Linked DNA regions of Homo sapiens. The protein of the gene in region 1 interacts with the protein of each later gene in a pairwise test. Each region holds a gene or a part of one and is shown on either strand. Other genes may lie near its edges.

Region 1 (3,500 bases):
AAATTTTCCGTTATTTAAAAGTATCAGAGCTATGCCCCAGTCTTTTCTATAGAATGAATCATAGCTGAGAAAAATGTATACAAAAAATAAGACATTTCTATTGGCTGGCTGACTACTAGTCACACTTTGGCTATAGGGGAATACATAAAATTCCTAGACTCCCTCCTAGCAAATAGCAAGCTTGGGAGTTTTTCAGCCTATACTTCTCTATTAAATCCTTTTATCTTCCTTTCTTCATCAGTTCCTTCAGCTATCAGCTTTCCTTGGACTCAGTAAGAAACTGAGAATCATATCATACCAACTGTCTAAAGACACTCTAAAGCTCTTAAGTTGAACTTTCACAGACAGCATAATCACTGCTATCTGCTATCCTTTCTACTAGTCTCCACATCCAATGTTATTTTCAGTCTTTTTACCACACATCTCCACGTGAAACCCAGATAGACTCTAAGGTAACCACTGTGATTCCCACCTCCAGGTATTCAAACCATTGGGTAATTCTCCCTGCTTGAGTATGAGTATGACCTATCACTTCCTTCTAACCAACAGAATATGGCAAAGGTGACAGCGTATGTATGATTACATTCCACAAGAATATAATGTCCTTCTTACCAGAAGACCCTCTCTTCCTTACTGGCTTTGAAGAAGCTGTCATGAATGTGAACTACCTATAAAGAAGGCTATGTGAAAGCAACTAAATCTGTCAACAATCACATGGGCTTGGAAGCAGATCCTTCCCTAATTGAGCTTCTGATAAGACCTTGGCCCTAACCAACACCTTGATTACAGCGCCTTGCAAAGGACCCAGCTAAATGTGACTGGACTCCTCACCCAAAGAAACTGTGAGGTAATAAACATGCATTGTGCTAAGCCACTAAGTTTGTGGCAATCTGTCATGCAGCAATAGATGACTAATGCACTCAGCTAGCAGCTCAGCTTATACCATTCATTATAAAAAAAATTTACTGAGCATCACCTACCAAGTGCCAGACAACAATATACTATTCTAAGCACTAAGGATAGAGTAATGAATGAAATAGAGGAAGACTCTGCTCATGTCAGTCAATAAACAAAATAAATATCTAATATAGAGTCAATTAGTGATGCGGATATTTGAGCAAGGACTGAATGGAATGAGAAAATGTGCCATGGAAAGATCCTGGGGGAGAATAAGTAGACAGCAAGAGTTAAAGCCTGGAAACAGGAGTATGGCAAGTCCAAGGAACAGAGAACTCTGAGGATAGGTCATACAGAGTCTTACAGAAATCTCTTTAAGTGTGACAGCCTTGAAAGTGTTTTCAGTAGGAACTGACATGATTTAGTATGTTTTTAAAAAATCATTCTGGCTGTTGTGTGGAAAACACAATGGGTTAAGGGGAAGAAGAGACGCAGAAAGACCAATTAGGACACTACTTAAGGTGAGTGATGATGATGATGTACTGTACTAAAGTAGTGATGTCACAAATGATGAGAGGTGACATATTTATTAAGACATATTTTGAAGGTGCAGCAAACAGCATTTGCTCATATTTTAAATATAGGATTTAAGTAAGAAGAATAAAAGATGACCTTGCAGTTTAGGGCATTAGCAATTACATGAATGCTGTTGCCATTCACTTCAATAGGGGAAACCAGAGAAAAAAAACTGCGCTTAGACATATTACATTTGGTATGTTTAATAAATAAATATTCAAGTGGAAATGTCAAGTAGGCAACTGGATACACAAATCTAAAACTCAAGGGAGAAGTTGACTTGAGTTCAAAATGTGAGCATCAGCTTATAGACAATCTTAAGACATGTGACAGCATGAAAGCACATAAAGAAATAATATAAATGGAGAAAAGGTCCATGGACTGACTCCTGTGAAAACAGGAGAATACGCCAGCAAAGAGGGGCAAGAACAGTCAGTGAGGTAGGAGAACCAGGATAGCATACTGTCTTAGGGGCCAAACACAGAAAAAGTTTTGAGTAGGATGGAAGGAGATCAACTGTATCAAATGCAGTTGAGCGGACAGTAAGATAAGACTCAAAAATGACCCCTTGACCTATAAAAAGGCAGTCACTAGTGATCTCGACAAGTTAAATGGTAGGAAAGAAAGACTAACTAGAGAAGTCACAAGAAAAAAATGAAACATAAAGATAATAAAAATGGAGAATCCTCTAAAAGGACCAGTGGAAACAGTGCAGTGATTGGGGTTGGGTTATGTGAATGAAGTGAAAAGCAGAATTTTTTTTTAAGTTTTATTTTAGGATGGGTAGTATCATGGCATGCTTGTATGCTATCAGAAATACTCTGGTAGAAAGGGAAAATATAATGCTGGAGAGAAGGATGATAACTGTAGGAACAAAGTTCTTCATTTGACAAAAAGGAATGGGATATAGTACACACTTGGAGCTTAGGCTTTAAATAAAACAGAGACAGGTCATCCACAGGAAAAGGCAGAGTAGATATATGGGTGCTTACAGTGAATAATGAATTAGAGTAAGCCACCTGAGAATTGTATCACCTACATATAAAAAGCTAAACTCAAAATCCAATAGCCCTTCCAAGATTAGAATATTTAAGATGGAAACACAAAGCTAATACAACCTTTTCATTACTAAATCTAGTTACATGCATATCAGGAAGAGAGGTTTTTTGTTTTTGTTTTTCCAAATTCTTCTCAGGAATAAGACCTACCTGGACTCTCCACTCTCTTATAGTGGTATGGGTTGATACAAACTTCTTTTTGCTTAGATCCAAAAGGAAATTCACAAATATCCAACGGCTTTAGCTCATGATGACTCTGCAAATCCGGCCAGCGCCAAACACGACAATATATAACATGGGGTAAGCCTTTTCTGTGAGAAACCTGCAGGCGTCCATCTAAAGATCTGGGAATAGTGACACATTTACTCGGCTGTCCTGGACTGCTCAAGGCTTTCTCCAGTTCCTCCATGGCACCCTTTTTCTTTTTTAGTTTCTTCACCAAAGCATCAACTGCCTTTTCTGCCCATTTCTCCTCCTCATCACCTTGTTTCCAGCCCAACAATCGCTTTACTGCTGGACTAGTAAAAGAAAACAAGCTGGCCATTGACGTCATTTGACACAAATCTTCGGAGACCTTCCTGTAACTCAAAGTCAGTGGCTACCGAAAGAACAGATCACAGGTGAAACGTCATACACAGGTCCTAAGCAGAAGTTCCAATTAAAAAGGGAGGAGTAACATTTATCTTCACAAGTGCCATATGCTTCTTTCATTGGGTCAAGTCCTGAAAGAGAAAGGGGGAAAGGATCCTAGTTTAAATCAATTCAATATATACAAATTTAAATTAATATAATCGAAAGGCATATTTTATTAAATAAGAACAGAAAAGCATTACAAAGTAAACAAAAAATTGATAAATTTTCTCCAAAAGTTCTGTGACCACTCGATTCCTTCCCCATAATATGAACAAGTAAGACACTGGCAATGTCAAATGATAACCAGAGGCAAAACCAGGTTGCTCTACCTCCTAT
Region 2 (3,500 bases), on another chromosome or scaffold:
CCAACACTGCATTAAAAAAACAGCATGCGACCTGCCAAATATATTAACAATATATGAAGCTTGTTCTCTCGATACAGCTTTTTAAATGCATACTTCATTGCTTTTTGCTCTACTCCCTTGCTTTGCAGAGTTTAACATTTCTTTTCTTGAAATTGCCAACTAGCAACTATAGTATAATGCATATCAAATTGGCTGGCCTGGTAATGCTAATAGTTATTTATTTTGAGAAACACTCAAAATTTTTCTTTGGACTACATGTTTGTAATCTTAGTTGATCTTGCTACTTTCCAGCCCAATGTTTTAATTATTCATATAAAGACATATACTGTCCATAGCCCCTGTGCTGTACTCATGCTCTCCTGCGGATTCTTCATATTTTTTCTTTTCTTTTATCCTTATAAACAGACTTTTAGATCCCTGACCTAAAGTGCCACTCGTATGCTTTTCATATTTCCCCATAGTGTCTTGTTCATTTAACCATATATAATTTATCTTTTACAATATTTATAATTGTTCAGAATAGTGATCTGATGCCTGAGAGTTTCAGGATCATAGAATGTGAATCTTATCTTTTGAAACACTTCAAATAGCTCAGAGCAAAGTTGGGCACCTAATCCTAAATAAGAATTATACATGGTATTTAGATTAAAAACTCCTAAGAGACACCATGGCTGCTTGTTCCTGTGTAATGATACCTAATTGACAGGTAAACTGAAGTGCTTCTATATGTAAAGGCTGGCTATAGAGATAATCTCCAAATAGCTACATAAATGCAAGAATTCTGACCACTAGAGTTAGGAGCTAGGGACACTGCAAATGTAGTTCAAAGTAATGAAATTTTAGAGTTAACTGATTTTAGAAATTATCCATCCTATCTTCTAATTTTACAGATGCATACTCTTAAGAGTCAAAGAGGTCTCAGTTTTTAAAGAAGAACTAGAACTTGAGATCTTAACATCTAGCTAATAGCGCTTTGTACTATGTTACATTTCCAAAAGAATCAATGAAGATACTGGCAAATATAAATCTTAACCTAGAAGAGGAAATTATTTTATTTACAGAGGAGATAAGTATTACACACACACACACACACACACACACACACACACACACAAACTCATTCATTTGATAGGTATGCTTTAGACCCTGAACACTCAACTTTCATATTATCTCAACCTAAAACCTCAAATATCCCCAAATGTTACTCAAGCATACCTTGATTCACCCAACGTCTTCGGTTCAAATTTTCCATTAAATATGCACCACAATACCACCTTCAATTTTTTCAAGATGGAATACTATTATATGTTCCTGTAGCACATGCCACAGGATTCTGAGCTGCAAACAAGAAAACGGGAATGAACCTTGTTTGTATTTCTATGAAATGTTTCTTCCTTTCAAGATTTTTTGAAAAAACTGCAGCTTCATTAGAATTTGGCAGGATTCATTCAAGAGATCAACTGCCCTATAAATGAAAAAGTTTCTCCTGGCTTTCTAACTTTTGCATGTGCACACACGTATAACTATTATATTCCCTAAAATAATCCTGCACATACCTGTTAGTGACTTCCAATTATCTTTTAATTTACTTATAAAAGTCCAAATATGTTGCCCCATCACTTTGATTCTTTAAATTGCTATCAGGATCTTTTGGATATGCTTTTATTTCTCTAGAAGAATGCTTTTAAAGCACTAAGTGTTCTTAAACTGTTTATAGGTCAAATTAGATCCATATTATTTTTCAAGTAATGCTAACATTTTTAGAAATAATTGTACTATAAATATTTATATATCATAATCCTTAGGGTCCTAAAAATAATACCTTTTCCTCTATTTCCCAAATTGTAGTTATATTTAGGACTGGAGGAAAACAGAAGTTCTACTCTCAGGAATAGCATTCATAGTTATCTTTCTTTTACCATTCCTAGGTGTTCTGCCTGACTATTGGTACTTTGTATATTACATAAAATATAATAATAGATAATGCTGTATCATAGATGACAAAGAATCTGAATCTGATATTTTATATTCAGTTATCACTCAAGATCAAAGTTGAATTAGTGAATGCATACTAAACTGAATAGTTTGAGCACCAGTTCATTCCGTTCTACACTAAATAATATGAATACTATACCTTATCCTAACGAATCTCCAACATAGACCTCTTAGAGTACAGATAAGAAAAAAGGAAGGAAATATTAACCTGAATTATATGTGACATCCCCCTGCAACCTCTTTTCAAACATATTATGAAACTCACTAGCTAATAAAAAAAAAAAAATGACAAAGGGACCTCAGGAGAGCAGTGAAAAAAAAGTCTTTGGACTTTGAAAACCATTGCCCAACAAACACTGGCCCAGGGCAAATAACCAAAGGAAGAATTGTAGGCAAACAAATAATACTTTAACTTTGCAATTAGAATAAAAGTGTTTTAGAACTTTGTCAAGCAACCTAATTAACTGTGACTGAAAAATTAATAGTATAATAAAGTATTACTTTTTTATCTTGTGTTCTCCTAGGTGAAGGAATATTTCTCATTTTCAGTGTCGTATTTCTTTTTCATTAGGATGATCTTTTATTAGATAAATATAAAATAGCTTAAAATGGTACGTGAAAGATCTTATGTAAAAGTTTCACAACCAGTGTTCAAACAACCTATCTCCCTGGTATTTCAATTGTACTTAATATAAAAACAAAAACAAAAACAAAAAGGCAAACTCAGTACTAATGTAAACACTGACAACATTCTGAAATAAATTTTGATTAAAAATATGACAAGAAAACATGATTTGGGTCTACCTCTTGTTTTACTCCTACACTAAGAAATTAACAACAGGCAACACAGGTTAACTCTTTCCCTTCTTTTCTTGAAAATGTTCCTGAAGCCCTGAATGAGAGGACACATCCTTTATAAAATTGCTGCTCAGTGTCCCAATTGATCTAACTCCCTTAAACTGCCAATATCAAAATCATATAAGGCTCTGAGGCTTTTTTTTTTTTTTTGGCTCTATGCAGTGAATTTCATTTCTTCTCTATTACACTTACTCTCAATGCATCTGATCCTTAGGTTGGTCAATGTGACAGAATTGATTGGGAAAGGTAGGGGAACCAAGAGTGCATAGGACATAATGAAACCCCATGCATCTCCACAATGAGAAATATTAAAGTGGAGCTACACATACATTTTTAAGAAAGATCATATCTTCTGTTTTTTAACATTTTCTTTTCTAAAACACACTTTCTTTCAAAGATGTGAAGAGCAGAAATAGAAACGCTGTTACATATGAAAGTTTCAACGGATTTGCTGCCAGCAGCTTTTCTTTATAGTGTTCCTCTTACCTACACTATGTGTTGGCACTGGCAGGTAGCCCTAATTCGTTAGTAGCCAAATTATTTTTGTCCCTGAAGTACGAGAAATCTCCATAGCACATGAATGAGACATGGTTTACTAGTTTACACACATTTTATAACTCCAAGAAACCAAAACTCATTCACAAATG

Evidence for each region.
Region 2: the proteins of SMAD5 (region 1) and SOX5 interact in a two-hybrid assay, tested with the Homo sapiens proteins (one large-scale study listed by BioGRID and IntAct).

Annotation. Positions count from the first base shown.
Region 1 is NC_000005.10:136,153,345-136,156,844, reverse strand, and holds part of SMAD5 (mothers against decapentaplegic homolog 5), read right to left. Parts: intron 3,254-3,500; 5' UTR 3,085-3,253; coding exon 2,682-3,084; intron 1-2,681. UniProt on the Homo sapiens protein: Transcriptional regulator that plays a role in various cellular processes including embryonic development, cell differentiation, angiogenesis and tissue homeostasis.
Region 2 is NC_000012.12:23,939,671-23,943,170, forward strand, and holds part of SOX5 (transcription factor SOX-5), read right to left. Parts: intron 1-3,500.